Homo sapiens: one gene and its partner. The protein of the gene in region 1 purifies or fractionates together with the protein of each later gene. This does not show direct contact. Each region holds a gene or a part of one and is shown on either strand. Other genes may lie near its edges.

Evidence for each region.
Region 2: the proteins of CERT1 (region 1) and MARK1 purify together in Homo sapiens (affinity purification with mass spectrometry; 2 studies listed by BioGRID and IntAct, with this or other methods). This does not show direct contact.

The regions. Positions count from the first base shown.
Region 1 is NC_000005.10:75,495,547-75,511,776, forward strand, and holds the start of CERT1 (ceramide transfer protein), read right to left. Parts: upstream 16,084-16,230; 5' UTR 15,960-16,083; coding exon of another isoform or gene 15,662-15,959; coding exon 15,566-15,661; intron 15,524-15,565; exon of another isoform or gene 15,228-15,523; intron 10,571-15,227; coding exon 10,436-10,570; intron 1-10,435. UniProt on the Homo sapiens protein: Shelters ceramides and diacylglycerol lipids inside its START domain and mediates the intracellular trafficking of ceramides and diacylglycerol lipids in a non-vesicular manner.
Region 2 is NC_000001.11:220,519,405-220,536,625, forward strand, and holds the start of MARK1 (serine/threonine-protein kinase MARK1), read left to right. Parts: upstream 1-8,731; 5' UTR 8,732-9,418; coding exon 9,419-9,469; intron 9,470-17,221. UniProt on the Homo sapiens protein: Serine/threonine-protein kinase. Involved in cell polarity and microtubule dynamics regulation. Phosphorylates DCX, MAP2 and MAP4. Phosphorylates the microtubule-associated protein MAPT/TAU.

The DNA of each region.
Region 1 (16,230 bases):
GACCCTATCTCACTTACAAAAAAAAAAAGACAGAGGCCAAGCCTACACAGCACTCACTCAAAGGAAGCTCAACAGGAATACCAGCTTCCCTGGTGAATGCACTACTTAACGAGTTGTCAGCAAGTTTTAAATTTAAGGCTTTGTCACTTTAAACAACAGAGTGCCACTGCAGATCCAATATAAAAAATAAAAATGTAAAAACAGTGAGAAATGTTGCCTCTATACACAAAACATAGAAAAAAGTAAATAATAATGCTGTTCAGAACTCATGCTAAATGACGAGTTAATGGGTGCAGCACACCAGCATGGCACATGCATACATATGTAACTAACCTGCACATTGTGCACATGTACCCTAAAACTTAAAGTATAATAAAAAAATTAGCTGAAAAAAAAATAAATAAATAAAAAAAAGAACTTAGAGCAAAGTCATCAAAATACACATTCAAATAGGTCTTAACTGTAGATAAATTTTTAGTGTTAGTGATAAAAATCAGTCTCTCAGATTGGGAGAAAATATTTGCCAAACATGTACCTGACAAACGTTACGGTATCCAGAATATATATAAAGAATTCTCATAACTCAACATTAAGACAACAAACACAAGATATTTAAACAAACATCACAAGAGATACAGATAAGCAAATGAAAAGATGTGCAACATCATTAGTCATTAGGGAAATGCAAATGGAAACCACAATGAGCTATCACTACATACCTACCAGAATGGTTAAGATTAAAAAAAAAAAAAAAACCCAAAAAATGTGACAATACCAAATGCTGACAAAAATGCCAAGCAAATGGAATTTTCACATAATGCTGGTGAGATGGTAAACTGGTACCGCCACTTTGGAAAACAGTTTCACAGTTTCTTATAAAGTTAAACATATACTTACCTTACAACCTAGCAATCCCATTCATAGGTATCTACCCAGGAGAAATGAAAATATGCTTATGCAAAGACCTGCATGCAAATGTTTAGAGCAGCCTTATTTATTGTATCTCAAAACTGGAAACAAATATATATCCGTCAACTGGTGAATGCATAAGCAAAATATGGTATATCCCTATAGTGAAACAGTATTCAGCAATAAAAAGCAACAAGTTAAGAATACATGTAACAACATGATGAGTAGTAAAAGCATTATGGTAAGTTAAAAGCCAGACACAAAGAGATGCATACTGCATGATTCCATGTATATAATATGCTGCAACAGTGGTTACCAGAGGTTGGGGACACAGAGGGTAACTGACTACAATGGGGCAGAAGAGAACTATCTGGGAGGATGGAAATATTTTATATACTCATGTGGTAATGACTATATGACTGTATGCATTTGTGAAAACTATAACTGTATACTTTAAAAGGGTGAATTTGACCGTGTGTAAATTATATCTCAATGTGATTTTTTAAAAGGCACAACATATCTTTTTTTTAAAAAAAGACATAGAATAAGGAAAACCAAAAAAAGGTAGGAAACAATAAATAGATCAAAGAAAAAAAGACTATCAAGAATACACAGAAAACATATAAAGAGTTAACTATTTTTTTAGGTTGGTAAATAGAACTATTTGGTGGAAGAAAATTTCTGAACAGAGTTGCATGAGAATCTGTTCAAACATGACACGCTACGTATCCCGGCTCTAGTGAGTCAACTGCATCTTTGTCCCCCTTTGATAAAAGGGTCTGACAACTTCTGTTCTTTAATTTTTTAACTGTAGGCTTTACTCCCAACATAAACATTTCACAAAATAAATTTGAGAGACTACTACTATGTGCCAAGAATTGTACCAAGTACTTTTATATGTTATTTCTTTTAATTACATAATCATTCCATACTTAGACATTATCCCCCTTGTTTAATCAGTTAAGGAAGCTGAAAGCTCAGAGAAATTTAGTAATCTGCCAAAGGTACCTTTGGCTGTAAGCAGTGATATGGTTTGGCTGCATCCCCATCCAAATCTCATTTTGAATTGGAGTTCCCATAATCCCCATGTGCTGTGGAAAGGACCTGGTGGGAGGTAATTGAATCATGGGGGCGATGGTTTTATAAGGGCTTTCCCACCCTTTGCTTGGCTCTCATTCTTTTTCCTGCCGCCCTGTTAAGAGGTGACTTCCGCCATGATTTTAAGTTTCCTGAACCTCCCCAGCCAAGCAGAACTGTGAGTCAATTAAAACTCTTTTCTTTATAAAAAGAAATACCCAGTCTCGGGTATTTCTTCATAGGAGCATGAGAACAGACTAATACAGTAAAGTGGTACCGTAGAGAGTGGGGTGCTGCTATAAGGATACCCGAAAATGTGGAAGCAACTCTGGAATTGGGTAACAGGCAGAGGCTGGAACAGTTTGGAGGTTCAGAAGAAGACAGGAAAATGTGGGAAAGTTTGGAACTTCCTAGAGACTTGTTGAATAGCTTTGACCAAAATGCTGATAATGATATGGACAATGAAGTCCAGGGTGAGGTGGCCTCAGATGGAGATGCAGAACTTGTTGGGAACTGGAGCAAAGGTGACTCTTGTTATGCTTTAGCAAAGAGACTGGCGGCATTTTGCCCCTGCCCTAGAGATCTATGGAACTTTGAACTTGAAAGACATGATTTAAGGTCTTAAATTTCTAGGAAGAAATTTCTAGGTGGCAAAGCATTCAAGATGAAGCAGAGCATAAAAGTTTGGAAAATCTGCAGCCTGTTGATGTGACAGAAAAGAAGAACGTATTTTCTGGGGAGAAATTCAAGCCTACTGCAAAAATTTGCATAAGTAACAAGGAGCTAAATGTTATCACCAAGACAATGGGGAAAATGTCTCCAGGGCATGTCCGAGACCTTCATGGCAGCCCCTCCCATCAAACACCTGGAGGCCTAGGAGGGAAAAATGGGTTTCCTGGGCTGGGCCCAGGGCCTTGCTGCTTTGTGCAGTCTTGGGACCTGGCGCCCTGTGTCTCAGCTGCTTCAGCTCCAGCTGTGGCTAAAAGGGGTCAAGGCCACTCTGAGGACAGTTCAGGCCATTGCTTCAGAGGGTGTCAGCCCCAAGCCTTGGCGGCTTTCCCACGGTGTTGGGCCAGTGGGTGCAAAGAAGTCAAGAACTGAGGTTTGGGAAACTCCGCCTACATTTCAGAGGATGTATGGAAACACCTGGATGTCCAGGCATTAGTTTGCGGCAGGAGGGGAGCCCTCATGGAGAACCTCTGCTAGGGCAGTACAGAAGGGAAATGTGGGGTTGAAGCCCCCCCACCCCCACAATCCTCACTGGGCAGTACCTAGTAGAGCTGTGAGAAGAGGGCCACTGTCCTCCAGATCCCAGAATAGTAGATCCACTCACAGCTTGCACTGTGCACCTGGAAAAGCTGTAGACACTCAATGCTAGCCTGTGAAAGCAGCCAGGAGGGGGGCTTGTACTCTGCAAAGCCACAGGGACGGAGCTGCCCAAGGTGGTGGGAGCCCACCTCTTGCATAAGAGTGACCTGAATGTGAGACATGGAGTCAAAGGAGATCATTTTGGACCTTTAAGATTTGGCTGCCTGCCAATTTCTCCCATTTGGAATAGGTGTATTTACCCACTGCCCATACCCTCAATGTATCTAAGAAGGAACTAACTTGCTTTTGATTTCACAGGTTCACAGGTGGAGGGGACTTGCCTTGTCTCAGATGAGACTTTGGATTTGGACTTTTGGGTTAATACTGGAATGAGCTAAGACTTTGGGGGACTGTTGAAAAGGCATGACTGTGTTTTGAAATGTGAGGACATGAGATTTGGGAGGGGCCAGGGGCAGAATGATACAGTTTGGCTGTGTCCCCACCCAAATCTCATCTTGAATTGTAGTTCCCATAATCCCCATGTGTTGTGGGAGGGACCTGTTATGAGGTAATTGAATCATGGGAGTGATGGTTTTATAAAGAGCTTGTCCCCCTTTGCCTGGTTTGCATTCTCTCTCCTGCCGCCCTGGGAAGAAGTGCCTTCTGCCATGATTGTAAGTTTCCTGAGGCCTCCCCAGCCATGCAGAACTGTGAGTCAATTAAATCTCTTTTCTTTATAAATTACCCAGTCTCAGGTATTTCTTCACAGCAGTATGAGAATGGACTAATACACACAGTTAAGGTCTGAACCCAGATTTGACTTCACGGCCCATGCACAACGTTTTAAGCACTTCGGAATTAAGAGTTGCTTTATAAATATTTAACAGTCATGTTCCTACAACCCCTACACAAAATAAAATGCACCACATATACAATTTTCTTAAGCCCAGTGACGTCATAAAATAACAGATGGCAATCAGACTGGGGCTCTTGGCTTAACAGATACTTTGTGTTACGGGTTGAACTGTGCCCCCCTCAAAATCATATTATATGTTCAAGGCTTATCTCCCAGTACCTCTGAATGTTACCTTGTTTGAAAACAGCAGCATTGTGGATTTAATTAGTTAGAATGAGATAACAGTGGAGTAGGTTGGACCCCTAATCCAGTATGACTGGTGTCCTGATAAATAGGGGAAATCTGGAAAAAGACAAATACATAAAAAGAATGCCATGTGTACATGCAGACAGAGATTGGAGTGATGCATCCACAAGCCATGGAGTACCAAAGATTGCCAGCAAACACCAGATGTAAGGGGAAACTCATGAAACAGCTTCTCCCTCACCGCCAACAGAAGGAACCAACCCTGCCCACACCTTGATCCTATTTCCAGCCTCTGGAACTGTGAAACAATACATTTCTGTTGTTTAAGTCACCCAGTTTGTGGTACTTTCTTATGGCAACCCTAGCAAATGAATACATTGTATAATTATATAATTAAAATTATATAATTTTCTGTAAGTTATTTCCACATTCTGAAACCCAGATTTCAACAGGTGCCCTTTTTCATGTTTTTCTTCTTCCAAGGCCTCTTACCAAATATTTTAAGTACTTTCTACTTCACGCTATTTGAGTTACATTATCTGAATCATGTTATTGAAAGATGGAATATATTCTTTTCTAATGAACTGCTAAACAGATAAATTATGAGTTTCTCAAAGCATAAATCTTAGCAGATCGAAGAGTCTCATTTCTTTAAAAATTCACTGACAAATGCTCCTCCAATGAGAATTAACAACTAGTTTCTTATCTAGTGCTTTTATTTGCTGCATACCTTCCTCTCTTTCCTTTAGTTCTCACTAATACTGTTCAACATAGAAAAACTGCACACTTGAGAAAAGGCCTTCTTCTTGGATTTCTCGCTAATTTGGAGTTCTTATAATGACTATTTATGGCACTAATCATCTTTGATGATACCCAATTTGCTGAAGTTCATTTCCATAATGTAATTTCTCATTTTACAATTCCACATTCAAAAATTTTTTACATCTGACTACTATTTGGCACTTTCAAAATTTATGTTTATTTTTGTGGTTCTCTTCAATTTTGAACACTTCCTTCCCTTGCTTTTATATCTCCATTGTCTGTTTTTTTTGTTTTTTTTTTTTGAGACAGGGTCTCACTCTGTCTCCCAGCCTGGAGGGCAATGGCATCACCTTGGCTCCACCTGCGAGGCTGAAGCAGGTGATCCTCCCACCTCAGCCTCCAAAGAAGCTGAGACTACAGATGTGTACCACCACGCCAAGCTGATTTGTGTATTTTTTTGATGTAGAGATGGGGTTCTATGAAGTTTCTTTAATTTTTCCAAGATCTTTCAACTTCCGCTCTTGCAGCAACCCCCTACCTCACCAACTTGCCTAATCACTATTTGGACTTAATTTGTTTTTTAATCCAACAGTAACATTTTCATTACCTTTCAGTTTTCCTTCCAAAAATATTAAAACATAAAACTGGCAAATTTCCCTAAAACCAACCTATGATAAGAATAATAGGAATTCTACTCATCTGGTGATTTTAAAAGTTCAACAAGATATGAGGTATACAAAGGCAGATGCCTAAGGTGAGACATGAAACTACAGAACTTAGGAAAACTAATTCTATCTGAAGATATTATACCAAAAATCTCTACCTGTTTTAACTTTAGTAACTGCAAATAAATTACTTCTATCTTCACCAATGAATCATTAGCAGTTTAAGGAACTGGTTGATGAAATACCCACAATATAATTTTAAACAGAGGATAAGAAGGACAAGCCAAATGCCCAGAAGAGAGTCCAGAAACAACCTTAAATAAATATGGGACCGTAATATATGATGAAAGTGGTGTTTGAAACCACTTGGAAAAAGGTTAGTTATTTAATTAATGCTACCAGGATACATAATTAGTCATGTGGAAAAAAAACTAAAAACATCAATATCACTCCTTAAACTAAAATAACTTCCACAGGAATCAAAATTCAAGTGTAAATTTTAGATGAAAATATATCTACATTCATATAGAGAGATAGTCTTTGAGAGAGAAACACCTATCTAAACAAGTAAATACAGAAGCCGTAATAAAAGATGTCAATAAGAGTATGTAAAAATCTAAGATTTCTCTAGGGCCTAATATAGACTATAAAACAAGCAAAGAAGAAACAGACAAGTGACAATGTGGGGGAAAATATTTGCAACAAATGTGCCAAATGGTTAATTACCATATGAAGAGTTTCTACAAGCCAAAAAGGAAAGAAAAACCAAAAAAAAAGTGCATAAGCAATTGGAAAAGGAAAAAGAAATAAAAATGGGCTATAAATTATTAAGTTACTCAACCTCATGGATAAAAAGTGCAATTTAAAATAATAAGATACCATTTTAATGTAGCAGTTTGACAAATACTTTAACATTTGCCAAACCCAACTTCCTCAATACTTGCGGGTAAGGAGAAACAGAGGCACTCATTCACTACTGGTAGGAGTGAGGAGTGGTACTCTTGAAGGAGTATTTGACAATAACTAAAAACAAATTTTAAAGTACATATTTGTTTCAATAATGATTGTAATAAAAATTAGGCATGATTTAAATGTGCAAAAACAGGGTCCAGGCAAATAAATATAATATATCCACACGATTCAACAGAATATAACAGTTAATGTGTAAGTTGTATTAAAACAAGGTGCAGAACAATAGGCTTAATATGATACCATTTGTGTAAATATTTATGAAAGATATAAACAAATCCTTGTATAGTCCTACATATTTTCTGAAAGGATGACCAGAAATTTAAGTTTGGTTGTCCCTCAAGTGCAAGACTAAAAAGCAGCATGTACTTCTTAAACTTTTTAATGCCACAAATTATATTTTTTATCATGTGCACTTTATTTTAAAAATAGAATATAAAAAGTAAACAGTGTAAATATTCCATAAACATTTGCTTTTAATTGAAACAATTACAACTAACATATTCAGAATATCTACTATGCGGCAAATTTTGTAGCAGGGGCTGGGTCTTCTAAGTATCAAGCTATAATAACTGAAGAATTCAACTGTCTTTCTACAAACACTTATTCTACATACAAATAGCTCTTTTTACACAAAGTAAGGGAATACTATTTTTCCTCTCACCTACTTACTGTCAATCCTTTCACATTAAGGAATAAATTCTCTCAAGACATACTTTCTTCCTTGAAATTATTTCACCCACTTTATTATCACACAGATAAAGAATATTGTTTTTATAAATTAAGAGTGATTTAATCATTAAACTAAGAATGAACTTAAAATGGATTAGGCTCTATCAAGAAATGTGGGTTCAGATGCTAGGTCCACCAACAAATAATATAGTAATGAATGGTTACAGTAAAGTCACATCAACTCTTCAAGCCCAGATTTCTTTGTACGTGAATATTATCAATTTCATAAGAGTGCCATATAAAGAAATTAAACATTTACATTCTTTGTATTCTGACATGAAGTGACAATAGGCATAGCCCATATTTAAGGAAAAAAAATACCAAGAGATGCCTATTAAAATTTAATGAGGAATATTACTATTACATTTATTTATTTAACTAAAGTACATACTCTAATTTGTAAACTCATCCTGAGTTCACTGAATTCAGTTATATTTTTAATTTCCTTTAAATATGTAACATGGAGTCTGTGAACCCAAAGGGCAAGGAAAGTTCAAGTTCAATAATATAAATGCTTGTGTTTTTTCCTATCATCCATTTCATTGTATCTAAGACTACCACACAGATTTTGTTGCCTAATTCATCTTTTTACTTCTACTTTTATCTCTCCTTCAAAGAATTCAAATTGTTTCTTGTTCCTACGCATGTCTTTTACTATGTACCACAATGAAAGTTATGCATGTACATATAGCTATAACAAAAATCAATTACAATAAAGTAACACTGTTTTCTTCCTGAGAAGATGGATATAAATGTTAAAATTTAAATTTTTTGTTTAATTTAAATTAAACATTTAAATTTTTTGTTTAATTTAAATTAAACATTTAAATTAAATGTTTAATTTAAAATTTTCTTTTCTCCAAATAAGCCAGGCAACATTATTATAGTCCATAATTCAAGACAGAATAACTATATTTAAATCCACAGAAACTAGCATGGTACTCTAGGAATACTACTACTTAGAGAATAATAAAGATAAAATTTAATTCCTCCCCATTTTTACATCAATCATTATACTATTTTCAAAGAGTTAAGCATTGCAACTAATAAACATCCAATAATAATACGCAAAAGAAGGGGAGTGGAGGATCAAGGAAAAACACTTCAAGATCGCAAGGTACATTTCAATCCACTATTCTGTCCATTGATATGAATAATGATCTATCTCGGAAGAAAAACACCCAAAATATTAAACTAGATACAATTTCTAAACACATTACAATGTACCACATACCAGTCAAAATAAATACTGAGCCTTTATGTTAAAGCTATTTCCTAAAAATTGTCTCTAAGAATAGAGAGCGTAGTTTCATTATCAACACTTCCAAATATTTCTTCTGTGTTTCTCTAACTTGATATTCAATTCTAAACTTTTGTTTTCAAACTTTGAATATACAAGGGGGGAAATAATGTATAAAAAATAATGTAAAAATACTGTAAGATTTTCCCTAAATGCATAACAAACATACGCTAAGTAAGGATTAGATATTAACGGAAATCTGAAGTATTATATATATATCTTTCACTTTTATAAGCCAAATAAATTCTATCACAAAATGTGACTTCTCTTTGAGTGAGTTAGTAAACTCTGTATTTTTGTTTTAACGTACCCATTTTCAGATTTTAACTACAACAGCTCCCTTAACTGACCTCTATTTAACTGTCTGGCCTTAGCCAACACTTTTTTTTTTTTTTTTTTGGCCCATGGCATGCTGACCATTCTTAACCAGTATGCTATTTTTTGTATTATCAGGTACTTCTGTTCTCACTAGTTGGGTTACATGCTTAACAAGTCAGTTGGTTGTTCCCAAACCTGTTTATGCCAGTTTACTTGTTATAGTTCTTACATATCTTAAACATTATTCATGTCTAATGACTACGAGTGCAAAAAGGAACAGTTGTTTCTATATACTAAGTTAAATGTAAACTAAGTAGGCCAGGCGCGGTGGCTCATGCCTGTAATCCCAGCACTTTGGGAGGCTGAGGTGGGTGGATCACTTGAGGTCAGGAGTTTGAGACCAGCCTGGCCAACACAGTGAAACCCCATTTCTACTAAAAATACAAAAATTAGCCGGGCGTGATGGCACGTGGCTATAGTCCCAGCTACTTGGGAGGCTGAAGCAGAAGAATTGCTTGAACCTGGGAGGTCGAGGTTGCAGTGAGCTGAGACCACAGAACTGCACTCCAGCCTGGGTGACAGAGCAAGACTGTCTCAAAAACAAAACAAAACAAAACAAAAAAACAAAAAAAGAACAACAAAATGTAAACTAAGTAGAATGACTCAACGAAGGTGAGTTATTCTTTTAAAGGGTGTTGAATTGGAGAAAAGTGATGTAACTGCAAAATATAAGGGGAAATCATAAAAAGTTAGAAGGAGCCTATACTTAGAGTTTTTCAAAAGTTATCTTCAGGCTTTTATTCCACATTAGAGAAATCAAAACTGTAAATAGCAAATCATGTGTGAGGAACATGAGAACAGCTTCTCCCAACTCCACAAAGAGATGGCATTAGCTCAATGTTAAAAAGTTTAAAAATGAATTTACATTTATATTTTTAAGTTAAAATTTTAGAATGTTACTTACAAGATGTATTATTTTTAAATATTCAGTAACCTACAAAGTAACTGTCCCAGCCTCAACAAATAAAAAGGCTTCAAACATTTTTTTTTCCTGAAGCCCTTAAACTGGTTTGATATACCCACCAGATAAAAACTACATGTCTATGCAAAATAACAATATGTAGTAAAAACCACAGTAAAATCACTTTATGGAAAAAAGTATTAGAATGTATATTCTACAAGGACAAGGATCTTTATCTTATCCACGGATGTATCCTGAACACGTAGAACAGTTCCTGGTATGTAGCTGACACTCAATAAATATTTGTTGAATGAAGAAGAAAAGGAACTTACTGTGATGACAGCCTTGCTAAGACAGATGGATCCTCTGCAGCCATACTCTGTTTCATCTTCAGATTTGTAGTAACTCAGAGCATTATTTTTCAAAACTACCCAACGATCCTGCCACCCATGAATGTAGTTTGTCCACTGGGAGTGGGAAGGGGAAGGGAAGAGAGAAGAAAACAAAAAATAGAAGTATTTTAGAAATCCAAACTTTGTGAAACAGCAATCTAATTTTAAAACCAAAACGTGAAAAGTCCAACTTAATTCTAAGCATAAACAGTAAAATGATTACAAAAAGTGAAAAGTTGAGATTTTCTAGATTGCATAATGATTTTCAGTAATTTTTACAATATTATAAATAAATCTGTAAGAAATAAAATATAACATTTTCTTCTAACATTTGAAGAATAAAACGAAAGCCAGATTTTGGTTAAAATTATTGTTTATTCTTCGTATGCTTTCATCCTCTCCTAAGTACCTTCATGATATTTGTTTTGGTCCTTGTCATAATTAACATATTCAACAGAGAAGTATGTTCAGTTATGTATGTAGTCTCTCATTCTGACACCAAAGACTGCATGAAGCCTTCTAAATCAACGGAAGTATAAAGTCAATTATTGCTAAACTCTACTTTTGTTGTTATTCCTATATGAAAATTTATAACAGCTGTAACTATATCAAAATAAAAATAATAATCTTTAGTAAGCTGGCATCAACTTTAACTTTTCCTCTACAGAACTGAATAATATTAAAAATGGCCAATACATTTTCCAAGTTCCTCTGAACATGCATTTTTCAAACTCAAGAGTAATAAAACAAAAATAAAATTGCTTTTCAAAAACATATTGGATTGTCTTCAATACCTTAAGAGTTTCTGTGTTGCTAAAGTCTTGCTGCAAAGTGAAGATCACAATAAACTGGAAAAGGCAGAAATGTAACCTTTACAGGAATACTTATTTTTGCATGTTTTTATCTATGCTCTGGGGTGTTAAGTATAGAAAAATCTCAAAAACTATCTGCCAATTCCAAAAACTAATTAAAAATGGATTGCCAAAATATACTGCATTGGCTCAGGCTCTATATCCACTGAGAAATCTTTTATTTTTCTGTTCTCTAATTAAGCATTTTTGAGATTGATTCACTTCTTAAATTTTCTTTTATTTAGTATTTTCTTGAGACAGGGTCTCGCTCTGTCACCCAGGATGGAGTGCAGTGGCACCATCTCAGTTTACCGCAATCTCCTGGGCTCAATCCTCCCACCTCAGCCTCCCAAGTGATTGAGACTACAGGTGTGCACCCCCACATCTGGCTAATTTTTTGTAGAAATGAGGTTTCGCTATGGTGCCAAGGCTCGTCTCAAACTCCTGGGCTCAAGCGATCTGTCTTCCTTGGTCTCCCAAAGTGCTGGGACTACAGGTGAGCCACCATCCCTAGCCAGTTCTTAATTTTTCTAAGCCCCATCATTACAACCACTCTCTGAGAACTCACCCAAGCCAACATTTAACTCATTCTAGTGGCTCCCAATCACCATTTCCTTATTTCTAACTGCTTGAGATGTACCACCACTTAGACACGGGCTTGAAATAAATGATAGTTACCAATAAAACTGAATTCACCTTCCTATAAAGTATACTTCCTTCCTATTTTCCTACTTCCTTGGGGAGACTGCTACTTCTGCTCAGAGTTAGTGTATTAGATATACAAACAGATTAGTGGATATAGGATAAAATAGGCTCAACTATTTTATAACTCATGTGAAGAGAGTTTTGACAAGTTACTTTTGTAAACTTCAGTTTCTTTGCCTGTTGACTGACGGCCGAATAAAATAATGAAAATGCCTAGCATAGTCACAGAAGATACTCAATACCTAAGTGTTCCTTCTCAATATTTATAGCCCATTACCAAAAGCTGCTCATCTTTCCTTCATAGTAAACCCTTAAATTTGCCTCCTCTTCTCATTTTCAACTATTCCAATCAAATTATCCAGTTCCTGTATTCCTTAGGAGACTTAATAATTTTTTCTCTAGTATCTTCTGTTTTTTTCATAATTTACACAAGCTTATTTACTTACTAAGCATATTTGCCTACTTTTCTTACATTGATCGTATTGAGTCTCTAGCTCCAAAACTTACATGGACAACTTCCCACTGACTGTCATACAAATTGTTTAGGGCATTCAAGACCCTTCATGGATTAATCCTACCTCATTTACAATTACCACACTTCATAAGGCTAAACTTTGTGACAGTGGTCAAGTTACTTATTCTCTTTGTGTTCTTTTTTTCTTTGTCAAATTCTCTTAGAGTTAAGTTTAAACAAGAATAGACTTAGAACAGTGCCTGGACATAGTATTTTCTGAATCTGAGGAAGAGTTATACATAGCTAATGAAGCTTAACCTTCAGCATTTCTCACTAGAATAGAACTCTTTCAATGTTAGAGGAGAAGCCCCAGCAATTATGTATCCATAACTTAATATTAGTTCTTATAAGAGACTGAACAAACTGTATCAGCTTCAGGACCCTTTACTCAGTAAGTATTAGCTGTATCATGACACCTGGAAGACAAGTTTTTTGTCTTTTCTCTGCTCTCATAATGTTCCCTCACTCTTCCCCATTTAACAAATACAGATAAGGCAATATGCTAGACACTGCAGGGGAATCAAATATTACTGTGGCCAACAGGCCAGCAGACACAAACTCAAGAGAAAAAAATATATATTTAGAATAAGAGTCAGAAGCAAGCTACAAACAAAATGCTATGGGAATTCAAGTGAAGGAGGTCTTGAATGATGGCAAAATAAGAAAAGGCTTTATGGAAAGGACAGTATTTGGCTTGGACTCTTAAGGATGGACAGAATTTCAAACAGTTTGGTGTGTGGAAAAACAGAAGGTAAACCATGAAGGATGGAGGAAATTCAGAAATTGAATGAGATTATTTTATCCAGGCTTAGGTGCTCTCAAGTCCTACTAAGGCATGCATCTTTTCCCCACCATGATCCATCACGATACTTGCTATAACTAGATAGAATTATTGTCTATCTAGTATTTTTGGAATCTATACACTTAAGTGATTTATAAGAAATATGCTTCATAGGTATTTCCATGTATTTCAGATTACCATATGGAAAATACCCTTTGAACTGGTATATTTCTAATATAAATTTACCCAAGCCCATTCCAAATCCACCCCATTTTGGGGGAGAAACAAAATGAATTGTACCGGGACTTATTTACATTACTCAATGGAAGGAAAAGAACAAAATCCGAGTTCTGACCTTTGTTTAAATTACCAGGTGAATACAAAGAATTCAAACTATATAATTTACATTTAAAAACATCTACCATACTCAGTATGAGTATATATACTCAATTTAGAATACCCTTGATTAAAAAGCTTCCAGAAAACTGTATATAACCATAAATTGGTAAATCTCAGGAAAATTTCCTTCATAGCTTTGAGCAAGAATACCAAAAGCTTTATTCCTATTCATTCTACATATGCAGCAACAGTCAAAATTTAAGCTATTCACCTTCCATAGAGGTGATCAAATACATTTGTATGCATTTAAATATCGAGATTGGTCTTCCATTTTTTTATCTATAGTATACCTACTCCAGAGCACTGGTTACTTTTTCCCCCGGTCACTCCACTCCCCCAACCCCCAAAAAAGTAATTATCAGTAGGTCAAAAGTACAATTTGTTTCGTAAAATACTTAACACATCACAATACTAATATGGCAGTCAGCTTCCCATCTTATGAGCAGTGATGAAACTACCAAAATCACTGAGAAGCAAGTAACCCACTTCCTATTACCAACTGAAAATGTATACCTACTACACAATGTGTTCAATAGAGATTCCTAAATTACAGGATACATTTAATCTAAAGAAATCCTGAGGAGCTTCTCGTTACTGAAAACCTTGCACTGAAATTTCAAGAATGATCACAGCATCAATATACAACATAATTTTGCTGCTATACAAATAAAAGTCAACACTTGCAATCCTTAGTTCTGACTACTCATGCCTTTCCTGGCCCCCTTCTCATTAGCTTTCTAGACATTATAAAAGCCTAATATGAAACAATTCCACAAATAATGTCCAAGTGATTTGCCAAATATGAATACTGGAAACAGGGTGATTTCTTAATAGCCACTGGCTGCACATGACATAGTATCTTATGACCAGCTTGTTGAGGGACTGGCCCAGCTCCCCCTCTCCAAGTTAACTGCTAGCTCCAGCCATGTCTAAAAAAGTTTAACAGGAAGGGAGAGAGAAGTCAAAAAGGCTACGTGAATCTTCTTACAGCAAAAACTTAAAAAAAAAATCCCCACAACTATGTAATATCAAGAGATCATCCACCTGCAGTCCTATAATGACTGCTTTGCTAAAATTTTGATACAGGGATTTTAAAAAATATATAAAAGATAAAACATCTTTTCCTTACCCTCGACCCCTTACCGCAAAAATATTTTATTATTAAGTAATGCTCTTCCTGGACTAAAGATCAGTCTCCATTCTCACATGTTCCAAGTTACTATGAATATTTCCTGTACCCATCATGTGCCGATTCAATATCTCTATTCTGAACTAAGGTACAGGGTGAGGGAGAAAGTCCTCCACATTCATCTGTCTCACTACATCTAACCTAGCAGAATTCAACACCTCAAATTTCAACACCAAGCTGAGTCGCTCCAGCTTCTGTCGAAAGAGTTGCGTCCGCAGTGCCCCCCAACCTACTCGGCTTGGCATCCTCAGAGAGACCAACCTCTTTTAAGAGGTCCGACTTGAACCGCTCCCATGCCCAGTCGTTCGGACACCGCTGAAGCCCAACCCGGATTCCTTACACCCGGGACAGCTGCCGCCCTAAGTCCCAAGTCACGGCGCGCATCTGGCCTCCCAAACTGGATCTCAGGTTTATACACCCTTTCCCTGGTCCTCGGCTGCCCCCGACGAGCCCCCGGGCAACAAGGACAGTGCCCCTATATCCCCGCCTCATCCCTAGTCGCTGCAGCAACACTCAGCCTCGCACCCCGGCACGTTCCGCGCCTCCCGCCAGCCCCACCCCACCGCCTCAGCGGATTGCCTCGCTGCAGGTGAGTCTGGCCAGGGGTCCCTTGGCACCAGGGGTTGCTCACCTTACTGAGGACCCCGCAGCGCTCCACAGGCGGCCCAGACTCCGTCTCTGGATCCTCCTCCGAGCCCGACGAGTTCCAGCTCTGATTATCCGACATGGAGGCTCGACAACCGAGCAGGAGACCGGCCCCCGCTCCCTCAGCTGCGCCGGAGGAGGCGCCCAGTCCTCGGGGTGAAGGGTCGGGGGATGGCGAAGCGAAGAGTGCCCGCTCCGGTGTGGGGGGGAGCAGGAGGAGGGACGAAGTCCGCCCGCCGCGCCGCCGCCGCGCCTGACACCGAGCGGAGCGAGGAAGGAGGACGAGCGGTGAAGGAAGCCTACCCTTCCAGCCGTCAGCCGCCGCCGCCGTCGCCGTGACCCCTGCGTTGCGCCCGGCGCTGCCACCCGAACTTAGCCCCCTCGATGCCAATTTCAAATAGGGAAGGAAAAGGGAAAAGAAGGGAAGAGAAAATCCGGCCGCTGAGTCCCGCGTCCACTCACACCTCCGCTACCGCCGCCATCTTCCTGCCTGGCCCACTATTTACCCTCCCCTCCCCTGTCCTTTCCCCTCCCCTTCGTCCTCCCATTCTCCCCCACTACTCCCCGCCCCGTCCCCCTCCCGGCGTCTGACGCGACACGCCGAGCCTTCGGGATCCTCCTCCCGAACCCTACCTCCGGCTCTCCCGGGTG
Region 2 (17,221 bases), on another chromosome or scaffold:
TTCCTATTTCTAGTTTGCTGTTTGTCTTAATTCTAATCTGATTTCATCCATATAAAAACATCAGGCAAGCTACACAATGCAGTTTGTCCTGAATCCTGCCTTTATGGCCAGACCTGATTTTATTTGACATTTATAGCAGAATAAGTTCACAACATTTATTCATATATTTTTATGTCCTTAACACTCCCCTCCATGTCTCTGTTGCACTAATGTTCTCATACTCAGAAGACTACAGTGGTTTTTAAAAGTAAAAACGAAAAGAAAAGGGAGATATGGATGTGGGAGTCAGCAATCATTATGCAGGTGCCTGTGACCCAGAAATGAATGAAAAGAGGCCTGGGTTCAGGGCTGGAGGGCCTGGATTTCCAGATCCATTTGTCATGGAATATATGCTACAAGACAAACCTTTTTACCTTTTGTGCCTTGGTTTCTTCTTTGGGGAATGGACTAAGAACACTTGTTGGTTTATAAGAATTTTAGGCTGAATTACTGGAGATGATGTAAACAGAAGACTTTAGAAAACCCACATAAACTTTAGCTCTTAATAAAGACGATGATGATATACATTGATGTTTCTGTATGAAGCCTTTTCTTTATCTTCCTTTGCCGCTAGTGCCCTTTGGACAGTTACCAATTAACACTGTATTTTGTTCTTTAACTTTTCATGTTACTCTATTAAGACTGCATGTTCCTCAACTGCATGCACCATATGACCACCTGTAGAAATGATTGTAAAATAATTAGTACATATCCTAAAATAGTTACTTTTCAAGATTTTATACTTGAAAAGAGGCTGTCATCATTCATTGTTTTAAATGCTCCTTTGAGGAATGATCCAGTTTGATGAACATAAGAAAATACTGTTGTTTTTACTATTACATTTCTGTTGTTTGATCAAATGTGGGATTATCCAATTTAATTATCCATGCAGTTCATCAAAGTTGTTTCCAAACAGATACTTCATTAAAAATAAGTCATCAAAAGACAAAGATTTACCACCCCTGAGAATATACAAAACATCAAACTACAGGTTCCAGAGCTCTTGCAAAATAAATTCATAAAGTGTACCATCACATCATTGTATTAAATATATACTTCCTCAGAGTGACTACTTTGAAAGCTCAGCTCAAGTTTTGCATACAACTCTTGTTGTATTTATATAAAAATTTTGGGAGGCTGAGGTGGGCGGATCATGAGCTCAGGAGATCAAGAACATCCTGGCCAACATAGTGAAACCCCGTCTCTACTAAAAATACAAAAATTAGCTGGCTGTGGTGGTGCATGCCTGTAATCCCAGCTACTGGGGAGGCTGAGGCAGGAGAATCGCTTGAACCTGGGAGGCAGAGACTGCAGTGAGCACAGATCGCACCACTGCACTCCAGCTTGGAGACAGAGCGAGACTCCATCTCAAAATATATATATATATATATATATTAATTGCAACATGTTAGCATCATACCTCATACCTAGCACCTCTTAGAATAGAACAGAACTCATAGTACATGCTCAACAGTATGCAATTGATTGTGGCTTATTGTTAAGAGTTTGATATGACAGAAGTAGATAACAAAAGAATGGTTAAAAATATTACAAATGAAATATACTTTTTCATATGTAAACAAACCTGGATTCTAGCCATGGTAATCTTCTGAGATGCATATTCCATGATTGTAATGTTTTTAAAAGGACACATTTATAACTTTAGAAATTTAGATGTTTGTCTTAGTGCTAGAAAAGGAAGATATTAGTAAATAGTGGAAAAAGTTAATATGGGAGTCTTGGCAATTGAGTTCTTAAGCAATGGATGGCAAGTGCCCAATGGGTGACTATAGAGGGTCAATTTGGAAAGATTAAGGACACTTAACCTGGGTTCTTCGCTTATGAGTGGTAATATACTAAAATCATCTGAAAGAAATCCAGGATCTGAAAACATATGCTCAAATTCAGACACATGATTAAATCTACTATCCATTCATCTGCTTAATTGAGCAACTCCCATATGCTAGGCACTGTGCTAGGCATTAGAGACACGGTATTGGACTGAACATTCACAATTGCTTTATTTTAGTCATTATTATAAGAGCTATTAAAGAAAAGTAGAATATATTACTAAAGTAATAGGGAGCTTGGTTTTTATGAAATGGACAGGAAAGAGTATTCCAAAACTGTTTATTTATCTGAAAAAAAAGTACTGCTAAAACAGTTATAATAAAGCTGTTTCTACTATTACAGAGTTATAAAGTTTACACATCAACTTTGATGGGCTGCACTGATAATTAAATTGGATAATCTCACATTTGATTAAATGGTTTCAGTCTGCTGAAAGGCTTTTGCTTAGGTTATAATGTAGACTCCTATTTACTATATGATTTTTTGCTGAACTACAAAAATATTATTTAGCACTAACAGAAATAGAAAACTATCAGTTATTGAAGATAAAGCAGTTCATAATGTTGAAATGTAGTAAGTGTACTGGTGTCAATATAATAAAGCTGGTGTAATATTACGAAATGTAGATCAAATATAAGTCACCTGCTCAGGAAGGCATCTTTATTATGGTTTTCAAGTACCTAAGCTAGTTGTGGAACCAGTTGAAGCTGTTTATACAAAAGCTTATTGGAGAAATGCCAAAATATTAAGGCAGAAAGCAAATTATAATTGGATTGGAGAATAGATCTAGCTGCTGTAATTCATTAATTTTTTTAGAAAAGTTAAACCTGGGTGCTTGTGTTTGTTAAAAGAGTAATATAATCAAGACATAACAAAATATTATTTGTATAATGGGAGTCTCTGGTTTTGAACTGTCTAGACACTGAAAGTACCTATAAAAATGTGAACTTCATGTGGGTGGGGATTTTTGTCTATTTCGTCTACTGCTGTTTCTGAAGAGCTTAGAATAGTCCCTTACATTAACAGAGCTATATATTTTTAAATTAATGAATGAATGAAAAGCAAAGTGAAAAATGGTGTATTTATGTAGAAAAGGAAGAAATCAACAAAATGTTAAGTGATGTCACATTTAACATAGAAAAAATAATTTGAAGGCATTGAATAAATTGAGTTTATAAAAAGAACCTACAAAAATAACATTTTTATATTAATAAGGTAAGTATAAAGACATGAGGGAACAATTCACTTAGTGTGTCATCTAGGAAATCAAATACTCAAATTGCAAGCCTGTTTAAAAGGGCATTGAACTACATTATGTGTAATTTGTAGTCACAAATGCCAAGTAAAAGACAACCAAGCTCCTACTTTAGGGAGGCTACCATAAGACTTTTAAGAGATTGTTTTGCTTTCTATGTGACTTTACAAAACTACAGTATGGAAGGTACAATAATGTGGGTATATCTATACTGATACATTTATGAACTCATATGCAACCATTGTTCCTTTGAGATCACGCTATGAATGTTGATTTTCACCTGCACTTTTCCAGCATTGCTAAAGACCAGTGCATAACTCACCGCAATAGTAACTTCCATGTGTCTTGTTCTTTGTTTTGCTGTGCCAATTTGCACTGCCAAGTGACACTGTGACGCTCAGTCTGCTGAAAGGCTTTCACTTAGGAAGAGTCACCCAATTTCTGATGACTGTTCCCTGGGGTTGACCGCCAGCTCTATTGCCTCTAGCACTTCATTGTCGTGTCATTCCATTTTTAATTTTTCAACCTACTTTTGAAGTGTTTCCTCCTGACCAAGTACAGTACACCTTGGTTTATGCAGATACTCATTTAAAAGACTTATTGAAATATCAATGATCAGCAATTCCTATGTATGGATAAAAATGAATAATTACAGTAAAATCACAGAGCAGTAAAATTAGTGGCACTATGGTAATCTGTAGGAGACAGAATAGAGTCACTTTGCTACCCAGTCAATAACATTTACTGGGAAGATACTTTGCATACTATGTAAACTCTTATATCCCCCAGTTGTAGACTTTAATTATCCTCCTATATTTTCAATTCTCCTATATTTTCAATGATGCTTCTTAGAAATTTAAAAGAATGTGAAAGTTCAGGAGAACATACAAGTCAATAAAAGTCATTTAGGAAATTGGGCATCTACTAATTGCTAAGCACTGTGCTAGGTTCTAGGCAAAAATAAATAAGACATATTCCCTTCCTTTTCCTAGTGCACAGGTGGATAGGGGACCAGCCAGGTACACAGTGCAAGGAGAGCAACAGTAGAGGTATGTCCAAGGTACAGAGGTAGTGCACAGGGAGTGATTAATTAACTGTGGGTGTGGGGAGAAACAGTGGTGTCAGGATAGGTTTCTAAAGGAAGGTTTTTAAAGACCAACTCTGAGGCCATCAGGCAGAAAAGAGGAGAGGACATTCCAGGAAGACAGAACAGATGACACAAATGCACGGAGGAGTCAAGCAATATGGTGTGTTCGGGGAATTCCAAGAAAACGAACATCGCTGAACCTACAGTGCTTGTGGGAAACAGAAGAGTAAACAACTCTTGGAGGTTATGTTTGTGAGGTGTGGAGTGGCATAACCAAAAAAAGCATTGAGCTGACCCTTGCTGGGTCTGACAGTTTATGTATATGCTGATGGCTATGAAGACAAGTATAAGTTAAATTATCACAAGGACTTTTCAGTCCTTCTATGACAATATATACAATGTAAAAGGCAACAGCTTTAAGCAGTTTTAAAAATACGATATATCGTTTCTTTTGAGGATCTTGTCCATTTCAGTGATTCTATATTTTAAGTAGTGAATGTTGACACAATAAAAATTCACCTTGCCAGACAGGCAGGCAATCAGGACCCAGTTTATTTGTGACAAGGACTGATTATTCTTTCCTGATGGACATTAACCTTGTTTCTCTTTAGCTGAGACTGCTCTTTGTTACCTTACCGAACTGTCTATCCTGTAGTTTTCCTGTGTGGCTAAATGAAAGATTGTAAATAGCCTTGTAGTACCTAAAACAAAGTATGCAAATAATTATTGACTGGCCAAGTCTATCAGACATTGGATACATCTAAAGCACATGATATAAAGACATGTGCAGTTTTAAGAGTTTACTATTAATCTGCTGAATCTGTCACATTTGATAAATTCTTTGTTTACAAATGACTGCAATCTGTTAATGCTCATTTGTATGAATTCAACATGTTTTCCACTTTGCTCTTTAAAAAGAATGCGTAAGACTGACTGCCGCTAACTATTAGGTGAAGAATATTCCCCTAGAACAGCACAGCATGGCATGTGGTAGAATGGTGCCCAACAAGCATTTATTGGGTGCCACTCTACCACAGAATGAATTATTAATAGCTTATAATCAAGGCCTTTGATTCTTAAGCAACTAAGCCTTTTTATTCTCAGCTTTGACCATATGGAGAAGTACTGTCCAACAGAGAGATAATGTAATGTAAACCACATATGTAAGTTTATATTTTTTAGGATCTGCATTTGAAAAAGTAAAAAAGAAACAGTTGAAAATGATTTAATAATATATTTTATTTAACCTAATATATTAAAATATTGGCATTTCAATATGAAATGGTTATAATATTTATAAAGAGACATCTTACTCTCTTTTTTTTCCTACTATTTGAAAATGTGGTGTGCATTTTATATTTATAGCACATCCCAATTCAGGTAATACATTTCCATGAGAAATACTTAATCGGTATATAGATTTCAGAAAATTTACAGTTGAAAAAGTAGATTCATATACTTAACATACTTTCAAACATAACACAATTTTTTCAGTCACTGAATCAAATCGGTTTTTAAGTGTAAATTATTTGAAATTGAGTCAAATTAAAAATTCAAGCAACATGTCAAGAGCTCAGTAGTCACATGTAACTGGTACTGGACCCGGTAGTTCTAAAAAATTCTACTCCATAGGGCTGACGGTAGGCAATGCTCTTTTCCCACTTTTCACTGTAGGTTTAGCACCTTTTAGATCTTTATTTCCCTTTTGTTTTGTCAGTACTTCAATTTTCTTCCAAAACTTTCATTACCCTAACACATTAAGTTAGGAACCTGTGAATTGAACATGCCACATTTGGTTAATAACCCAAAAAAAAATTACTCAAAGCCTTAAAATATTCCCTTTGTCATTTCTCCATAGTCACAGACACAGAAGCTATATATAGTAACACAAAAAAATTTTGCTCATGAGCATTTTCATTTCTAAGGACTAGGGTTAAACAGTATTGACTCCATCACAATAATGCCTCATGTCATTTTTTTTTCCTCTCCCATGTTTAAGGATCTACTAATGCCATTTTAAGGGGAGAAGAGCTCATATAGGGACAGACAGTATTTCCTTTTGAAAAACATAGTGACTTTTTTTTTAACCTGGGCAAAGTGCATTTTCACTTAGTTTTCACTACATACCAAGCTTAAAATTGTTAGGTATTAATAAGGATTATTTGAATGGCATTTTCTTTTGGATAGAATTGTTCTATCCAAAAAAACAATTTGGCTAGCTAGAATTATGGATTCGAGCTACCTAGTAATGACTCTCTTTGAATGTAGTTTCACTGTTAGAAGTGTTCTTGGGGATTGACTTAAACAATAAATATCCCTTCCTATTATTATGTGATATTCCGTAAATTTCAATATGTGAAATAGTGAGCATTGTGTAGCAAATATAGCTAAGGGATTTGTCCATGGCTTTTAACAGACACTTTAAAATCTGTGGAAGCCACTGTGCCAGAATCTGGGGCTCTCCTTTAAGCTCTGTCTCGAATTAGCCATTATATCTTATGGGGTGAACCTATGGTTTTTGTGACTGGTGCAAGATTGAACAGCACCACATATTTCAGTTATCTTCTTCTGTATCTTATTAACCTGGTGCATCTGTGATCTTGAACAAGTTAACTTAGTGGAATTTTGTAAAATGGAAATAAATATGCCTGTCAGGGTCACCACGATTATAAAGATAGAAAAATATGTGAGTATACTTTAAAGAGCAAAATACATACTACCAGCTGAAGGAATGATTCATATTCCAATGGGGCTGAACGCCTTTTCACAGCTACTTGTTTATTGCTAGGTTAACTCAGGTACTATTGCAACACTAGGTACCCTTGTGTGGCTGCAGCAGTCAGTGATGCCGCTGACACTGTGATGGCAGCCCCTACAGGCAGCCGTCGCAATAGTTAACCAGAAAATAACCAGAAAAATACAGGATTATGCCCTTGCAACTTCAATGTATCTTGGTGATTCAGGATTTTCTGCAGAGGGCACGTAAATGCTTGACATTCTCAGTAACACATCATAGTTCAGGAGGCAGCATTGCAGTTCCGCTGCCTAAATTCTGTTTGAGAAGTGGTGATGACCACCAAAGGGATCTTGTTTTTTTTTTTTTTTTCATTTGCTTTGTGAAATTGGTAAGTGGTTACAAGAGAAAATGCTAAAGAAATAAGTACACAGATGGTGTTCTAGAAGTGAATATAGACTGGGTGAGAATTGCTTCTTTCCTCAAAGGATTTTTGTGTTTGCTATTTTCAGGTCTTTTGGACCCATGCTTCAAGGGTCAAGTGTTAACTTTTCAGAAACAACCTTTAATGAGTCAGGATAAAAACCATCTGGTTCAGGGATTCTTCTTTCAAATGGAGGAAATTCAGAAGAGACGAGAAATTTCCCACCATTATAAGAATTCCACTGGAGGCATACTGAAGCAGCTCAGAAAATCAATGTATCCGCTCCTATCTTTCATTCCTTTTGTCTTCCTGCCCATCCATGAAAGGAAGTGAAAAAGAAATGTTGCAAAGAAGAATAGAGAGACGATAAGGTTTTCGTTCTACAGGCTGAATGTGCAAAATGTAAGCTCTCAAATGAGATTAAAAAAAAATGCAGCCTTGCTTATAAAAGGCGAATGGGTCCTGGACAATGCACTACAGACGCGGGTGCCTACAGGATGTCTTGAGGCAGGTGGGTGGAAGTGTGAGGAAGCCACCTGGAAGAGGGAGGACAGGGCCCAAATCAGACACAGCTCTCCATCCTCCCTAAACAGGCTCGCCTAAGTGACACTTCCTTGTGTCCCAGGAAGTGACGATCAGCCAGTGTAGATGTTGTGACTCGCGGGTCTCACCCACTCCGAGGGTGCTGCAGGGCGCCCAGAGCGAGACGTCTTCCGCCGGCCCCATTCCCGAAGAGGCCGCGCCGTCGGGGGCTGAGACCCACTTGTACTGAGTCTCCAGCCGCCTCCCTAGGCTGCTGGCGCTTCTAGGGGCTTCTGTGCTTTTTGCCAAACTCTGAGGGTGACCCTGAACCTAACGGCTCCCTAGAGAAGGAGACTGACAGAGGGCTCAGGCGAGGATAGGGATTGAGAAAGCGTGGAAACGGGGGAGGAGGAGTAGAATTTAAGAATGGTAAAAGTCCCGAGGTAGGAGAAAAGGAGGGGTAGGATCCAGGGTAGGATTGAATCCAATTCTTCTCCAATGAAACGGACAAACAAACAAACAAACAAACAAAAACAGAAAGAAAGAAAAAGAAAAAAAAAAGCCACTGATTCACATCAGCTCTCTCTCACCCTCAACCCGGCAAAAACCAAACACGAATAAAAATAAAACCACCAGAGGCTCTTAGACGACCGTAAACTCTGCGGGTGGGGCACGAAACAAAAATAAACACAGGGACAGGCGGGCAAGAGAGCGCGGGAGGAGGAGGAGGAGAAAAAGGAGGAGGAGGAGGAGGAGGAGGCGGCCCCGCATCCCTAATGAGGGAATGAATGGAGAGGCCCCCTCGGCTGGCGCCCGCCCACCCGGCGGCGGCCGCCAAGTGCCTCTGGGCGCTGCGTGCCGCGCCCGCTGCTCCGCGCGCAGCCGGCTCGGGCCGCTCCTCCTGACTGAGGCGCGGCGGCGGCGGTGGCTGTGACCGCGCGGACCGAGCCGAGACATTCGCGCCGGGGGATCGGGCGCCGCCGCCGCTGGGCCCCGGGCGCGTGGATGCGGCTGGGTCGGGCGGCGCCGTACACCTGAGGCGGAGAACGGGGCGCGGCGCGGGTGACGCTGTCAGGGCCGCGGTTCCTGACGCCCAGGCGCTCGCCAGGACGAGCCAGGCAGTGATTTGAGGCACCGGCTTCACCTTCACCCATGGTCCGGAGAGCCTAGCGGGGCTCGCCACCGCCTCCCGGCTCCCCTTCCACGCCTCATCCTGCCAGCCTCGCCGCCCCGCCAGCGCCGGGCAACCGCCTCGCCCGAAGCCCTCCCTCGTTACTGTCCGCATACCCCGGCGGCGCCGCCGCGGGAAGCGGCTCCCCCTCCTCTTCCTCCGCGTCCTCTTCCCTCTTTCCCCCGCCGGGGCCGCTTGTTGCACCGCCCCGCGGCCTGCGGGAGCCGCTCGCCCCGGCCTTGTGCTCGCGTCCGCACCCCTTTCCTGTCGCCCCCCGGGGCCCGCACCACAGCCCGGCCGGCGAGACCCCGGCCAGACCCCGCTGCCCGCACAAAATGTCGGCCCGGACGCCATTGCCGACGGTGAACGAGCGGGACACGGAAAATGTGAGTAACCGGAGCCTCCCTCGGGAGCAGTGGGGGCGAGACCCTCCTCTGATCCCCACTTCACCCGCGCTTGGGCCGTCCCCCGTGCCTCGGCGCGGCCACCCGCGGCAGGGTCTCCACCTGGAGCCCGGCGTGACCCTCACCCACTGCTCAGCCCTATTCTTCATTCCAACCCCATTTCGCTTGTTTCCCCTCAAGGGTGAGGGTAGGGAACCGTAAGTGGCGCCCTCTCGCTCGGAGGTGGTCCTCCAGGGGCGGATGGGGTGATGGAGGGCAGAGAAGCAGAATGGGATGGCAGAGTGGGCAGTCAGGATTGCTTTATTTCTACCTCTGCATTCTGTGCCCCCACCCGAATGAATGCTTGCTTTACAATAGCAGACGAGCCGGCTACCTCTCACACTCTTGCTTTTCTGGATCTTTCAATCCTTTGCACTCTCCCCTCCTCCCCCCGCATTGCCCCATGACTTTGCTTTTTGTAACATTGTGTCCACATTTTGGGTCATGGGCACCAAAGCGAGAAGGATGGGAATGGAAGTGGAGATGTGTGCGTGTTTGTGTATGAGTTTATACTGCTGTGACACTCTTAGTAGGGATGAGTAGAAGAATTTCACGAACAGCATCTATGGCCCTGGGGTTACAGCAAAATGTTGAAAAGCCACATGAAGCCAAGGGCTTTTTAATCTCTTCCTTAAGTCAGTGATAATGATGCAGGGCAGGTTTTACTTTAAATATCTCTCCTCCTTGGAGTGTCACAAGGTGCACATCTTTAAAGGAGGGATTTTCTGTGTCTTTGATCAGATTGCCCTCTGGAGCTGTTATCAAGATGCAGATGTGCCGGGCTTTTAAACTCTTGAAAAACGAAAAGAACAAGATCCCTTGTATTTCCACCTTCTGAAAAGTACAGTTGTGTGTGTGTGTGCAAGTTCCTTTGTGGGAAGGTTTTCTTGTTTTTGTTTTTGTTTAAAACACTCAAGACCTGTAAATAGGGCTTGGCTGATTTTCCGACTGATTTTAAGGACCTAGAGGGGTACTAAGTTTTGGTCAGCTGTCCAGAGCTCTCTGTCTAGTTATCTCATCAGCCGTCCAGCTTTTGATATACCACTGACTTCATGGGGTTGGTAAAATAAAATAACGAAGCGCTTTGGTGTTCTTAGACAAAAGGCATGAGAGAAAGGATACAAGCTCACTTCTGAGTTGTTGGAGGGGTATAAACAGATGATTTCATCTTAGGAGGGAAGCACAGAAATTTAATATAACTATACAAAGAGAGAAGAAATTCTACTAAGAGACCATTGTTAGAGGACCTGTGAAGATGTTTCAGAGTATGCTTTTGTCTTCCCTAGCGCCGTGCATTTAAATGGGAAAGATAGTGTAAGGCTGCTGCTATCATAAATTAGAACTTCATTTGCATCATAACTATTTTAGAAAATATAATTGATACATAATTTTGATTGAGAGATTGAACAAGTTCAGAGAAAAAGATGGATATTTTGGTTTGAGTTGGTTTTAAAGCCGAGTTGGCACAGAATTTTTCTAACAGGAACATTAAAAAAATGCCTGTCATTCAAGAGTGTGAATGAAAAGTATGACAGATGATAACCTTTGTTTTTATTAGCAAATTACTGTATGTGTTAACCCAGGAGGAGTGGAAAAATACATTGTTTTTATTTTCTTTTAGATTTTGAATAGTATAGCTTTTCTCATACTTGTATGAATAAGGTACTTCATAAAGACATGAGATATAATTATAGAAATATGCATTAAGGAATAGCACAAAATGCAGCTTCTCATGTAAGAACACACAAAAAAGGATTTTAAAGCTAAGCAATAATAGTATGATAAATTTTGTTGTGAGTACCTTCTGAAAATGATTATGCTGTATAAACTGATTTGCTGTTTCTGAACATGTTATTTCAAAGTCACTTTTATGGTCTTGTGCCTTATTGTGTTGTACATAATGATATCTCCATTTAGCTTACTTTACCCACACCTTATTTTCTCCTAATTGCTGTGGAAAATATCTATTATATGACACCTGTCAATTAATAAGTATGCACTCAGCATGTTCATTTTTTAGGTAAAGGGTTGGGAAGGGGATATAGAAGTAGTGTTTAAGATAAAGTCTCTCCCTGCAAGGAGCTTACAGAAGAGATAATAATCCCAAACAAGTAATGTATGGTAGAAGACATTGTGTAAATAGGGCTAAATTGGTTTATAGGTGTTATAGGTGTTTATCAAAGAGGCCACCACTGATGGCTACGAAATCACCATTGGTGACTCTCTTTATTCTCTAGTTGGTAGTAAATGGCATCATCCATTTTTACTTCTCATCGATGAAATAAAGTAACAAGCCTGCTTGTTAGCTAATATATTAATGCCAGTATGGCAGCCAAAATGTATTTTTGTTTATAGTCATTTTCAATTACATGACATATTTTTAAAAATAGTTACAAAACTTTTATATTCATATGACTATTAAAGGGTTCTAAGTCCTTTGGTATATCAAGGACACTAACTAAAAACATTTTATTTTCCTTAGAAATTAAAATCAACAAATACAGTAATTTAAAACACCATCTTGATATTTCGTTGTCGTTTGCAGTTAATATAAACATTTCTTTGGTCATCCATATAACGTATTTGGATTTTGTGTCCTTGGGAATATATAATATCTACCCTTCTCAGTGTCACTAATATATATTCAGGATAAATAAAAATCCCAAAAGAGGAATATTATAGCACTGATCTCTTATATACTACTGCTATATATAGTAGAATGAGAAAGAATTGCTTTTCTCTAAGAACAGTCTATGTGTACTTTTTCAGGAGTATTTTCTTTGATGAAAGATTTGTGTGTGCCTTGTTAATAGGCCTCAACGGGCTAAATACAACAGGACAACCAATGATTAACTTTTAAGGCAATAAACACTTTGTAGTAAAGTAAAAAAAATGTGTTGCAGATAATAGAATCTATGCAAAATGTGTTTGATTTTAGATTATAAACAGTAAGTCCAGAAAAAGAGTAAAAAAGATTTCTCTTTTTTTCTTTTGTTAGATTTTATTTGGATAATTCCACCATGGATATAGATAATATATTATCATTACTCTTACATGTTTTTTAATGAAACAAGAAAAAAAATTTAGTATTTGGGAAAAACTCCGATTATGCTAATTATTAATGGGTCAAAAATGCTCAGCCTAGCTTTCTGTGATGAAATTTTGATCAGTATGAAGAAAACTCTTTTGACTACTTCTTGGAATGTTTTAAAATTGAATTCAGTTAGACTAAAAAGCCTTTAATAAAAAAAGACTCGATGTTGAGTCTTGTGACATACTGAAATTCATGGCGGTGATTATAATGATTACCTATTGTAACTAAGGTTGCCATCAGTAGTTTGTCTTTTGAGAATCATTGTTAATGGCATGAAGAAGCGAGAGGAAAGCATACCTTTGTCACTATCCTTGGATTTTCTGTGCATCCTTCACATGTCACAGTACCTATCACATAGCATCTAATTGCCTGACTTTGTCTCCCTTAGTCTGTGTTGCCAGTGCCCAGCACAGTGACTAGTACAGTATATAAGAAATCAGTGCTGTAACACCCCCTTTGAATTTTTTCATTTATCATCAAAATATATTGGTGACATTGGTGAGGGTAGACATTACGTATTACAACCTGAGAGGCTGAATGAAGCCTTCAGAGAGAAAATTTAGTGACCTACCCAAGGTTAATAATTCTATCCTTCAAGGTGAATAATGAAAATCTGACACCTTCCACTATTACTGTACTCATGCTGTTACTTCGAGAAAGTGTTTTTTTGTTTTCTTTTGTTTTGTTTGTGTCTTAAAGAGTTTAGAAGAGTGGCTCATGCCTCTAATCCCAGCACTTTGTGGGGCCGGGGTGGGAGGATTGCTTGAATCCAGGAATTCGAGACCAGCATGGGCAACATGGAGAAACCCTGTCTCCACTAAAAATACAAAAATAAGCTGGGCATGGTGGTGTGTGCCTGTAGTCATTCACAGCTACTAGAGAGGCTGAGGTGGGAGGGTTGCTTGAGCCGAGGAGATAAAGGCTACAGTGAGCCAAGATCACACCGCTGCACTCCAGCCCGGGTGACAGAGTGTGAACCCTTTTTTTTAAAAAAAAAAATAGATTTTAGAAGAGCATATGAAATGGTATAAGATACTTTATTAGAGGAAGAACAGGGTATGCCGTCCCTATCCCTACTTCTGAACCTTTACTGTTTTCTGTGTGGAGTGCCTTGCACTTGTCCCTTCATATCAAATTTACAAATCCTTTATGGCTTGTCTCATTGTTTTAACAAGACTTCTGAAATGATTGCAGCTAATATTGTTGTTTGTTGTAGCTGAACAGTGGTGGATGTATATAGTACACATCAGTGGTCTCTAAAGTGGGTGTGCAGGGCAATACATTGGAAGAAGAAATGTATTTAATGTTTGTCACTTCACTTCTGACCTACATGCTATTATTACGTCTTTTTTTTTTATAAAAATCCAGTTCATATAGAATTAGACACATGATTTTAAAGTTATTATTATTGTTATTATTTTTCCTCTTCCATCTCATTGTTTCCTTTGGGTGTCATTTTCTCTTTTCCTGATGAATATCTGTGGAAGTTCTTTTGGTGCAGGATTGTTAGTGATGAACTTTTTTAGATCTGAAGACATATTTTGCCCTAATTCTTAAACGATAGCTTTGCTTAGTCTGTAACTCTAGGTTGATAGTTTGATTTCTTTCACCACTCAGAAGGTAGTATTCCATTGTCTATTGATATACATTGTTTCTGTTCAGGAGTCATCTGCTATTTGGTGTGTGATCCTTTCTGTCTGTCTCTATCTTGTGTGGATTCATATGTCTCATCAGTTATGGGAATGTACCAACCATTATGTCTTTGAATGTTACCTTACCTCTGTTCTGCATAGTATTTCTGGCACTCTGGTTAGATGTGCGAAAATTTATCATTCTATCCTTCATGTTTAACCTGTCATTTATTTTTTTCCTCCTATTTCACTGTTTATCTGTACTCCAATCTGTAGTATAACCTATACTATAGTTACCATATATGTTTAGATCTTTCTTCAGCTGTATATAACCCTGTTAACCTATCTGTTGAATTTTTTTTCATTGTGGTAAAAAGCACACATCAGATACACCCTTTTAACAAATTTTTAAGTGTGCAGTACAGTATTTTTGGTGGGGAGGGAGTAGATTTTAGTGGTGGTAAGGTGGCAATTTTATTTTTTTATTTTTTCACGTCTTATTTTTTATTTAATTTTATGATATGTATTAGATCTATTAGTGCATATTTTGGGGGTATATGTGTTAATTTGATACATTCATATAATCAAATTAAGGCAATTGGGATATCTATCACTTTACATATTGATCTTTTCATTATACTAGCAACATTAAAATTATTCTAGCTATTTTGAAATGTACAATTGATTAGTTAACTATAGTCACCTCAGTGATCTATTGAACACGAGGTCTTTTTCCTTCTAAGTGTATGTTTATACTCATTAATCAATCTCTCTTCATCCTCCCCTTCCTACTAACCCTTTCTAGCCTTTGTTAACCACCAATCTACTCTCTATCTTCATGAGATCGCTTTTTTAACTCCCACATATGAGTGAGAACATATTTGTCTCTCTGTACTTGGCTTATTTCACTTAACATAATGACCTCCAATTTCATCCATAGGCACAATATTGTACAGCACATCTCTAGAAATTTTTCATCTTGTGTGACTGAAACAGTGTACATATTGAACAGCAACTCCCTATTTCCCTTTCTTTCCAGACCCTGGCAACCACCATTCTTATTTTCTGCTTTGATGAGTTTGACTACTTTAGATACCTCACAAAAATGGGATCATGTAACATTTATCCTCTGTAACTGGCTTATTTCATTTTAGCACAATGCTCTTAAGGTTCATCCATGTTATAGCATATGACAGGATTTCTGTCTTTTTTATAGCTGAATAATATTCCATTGTATTATGTACCTTGTTTTGTTTATCTGTTTATCTGCGGGTGGACATTTGGGTTGCTTCTACTTCTTGGCTCTTATAAATAATACCTCAGTAAATATGGGAGTGCAAAGATCTCTTCAAGATCCTGATTTTAGTTTTTTGGATAAATACCCAGAAATGGTCGTATGTTAGTTCTATTGTTGGGTCATATGGTAGTTCTACTGGGTCAAATGGTAAGTCTATTTTTAATTTTTTGAGGAGACTTCATATTGTTTTTCATAGCAGCTGCAGCATTTTACATTTCCACCAACAGTGCACAAGGGTTGCAATTTCTCTACATCCTCACCAATGTTTATTTTCTGTTTTTATTTTGTTTTATGGTTTTTAAAATTATAGCTATCCTAACAGTTGTAAAGTAAATATCTTACTGTGGTTTTGATTTGCATTTCCCAGATGATTTGTGATGTTCACCGTCTTTTTATGTACCTGCTGGCCATTTGTATGTCTTCTTTAGAGAAATGTCTATTCAACTCCTTTGCACATTTAAAAATCAAGTTTTTTTAAATCAAGTTTGCATATAGTTTTGCTCATACTGTAGTGTGCTTTTTCACTCTGTTGTTTTCTTTGATGTGCAGAAGCTTTTTAGTTTGATTTAGTCCTGATTGTCTATTTTTGCTTTTGTTGGCTGTGCTTTTGATATCATATACAAGAAATCTTTGTCAAGACCAATATCATGAAGCTCTTCTCCTATGTTTTCTTCTAGGGATTTTATAATTCAAGTCTTAAATTTAAATCTTTAATCCCTTTTGAGATAGTTTTTGTGTATGATATAAAATGAGGGTCCAGTGTCATTCTTTTGCATATATATATCCATTTTCCCAGCACCATTTGTTGAAAAGACTGTCCTTTACCCATTGTGAATTTTTGGCATCCATGTTGAAAATCATTTGACTGTGTATGCATGGGTTCATTTCTGAGCTCTCTATTCTGTTCTTAGTGTATATCTCTGTCTTTAAGCTATTACTATACTATTTTGATTACCATAGCTTTGTAATATGTTTTGAAGCCAGTAAGTGTGAGGCTTCTAACTTTGTTCTTTCTGAAGATTGTTTAGGCCATTCAGGGTCCTTTGTGGTTCCATATGAATTTTATACTTTTTTTTTGTTTCTGTAAAAAATGCCATTAGGTTAGTTCTTTGTTAGTGCATAGAAATGTAACTGACTTTTGTATGTTGATTTTGTAGCCTGAAACTGTTGAATTTGTTTATTATTTCTAGCAGTTCTTTTTTTGGTATTTGGAATCCTTAGGGTTTTCGGCATATAAGATAATCTCGTCTACAAACAGTGATAATTTTGCTTCTTTCTGATTTGGATACCTTTTATTTATTTATTTTTTTCTTGTCTAACTGCTCTGCCTAGGACTTCTAATACTATGTTAAATAGAAGTGGCAAGAATGGGCATCCTTGTCTTGTTCTTGGTCTTAAAGGGAAACCTTTGTTTTCTACCACTGAGTGTTATTTATATTAGTTGTGGGCTTTTTTTTTTTTCCCACACAATACATTTTATTTTATAAACTACTGTGTACATTTTATACAATTATGACTATTTTCCATGCCTTAAGTTTCTAACCTTATCATTTGCAATGGCTACATTAGAGTGGGTGAACTAGCATTTATTTAACCAGTCCTCTCTCTCTTTTTTTTTTTTGAGATGGAGTCTTATTCTTTCACCCAAGCTGGAGTGCAGTGGCGCAATCTCA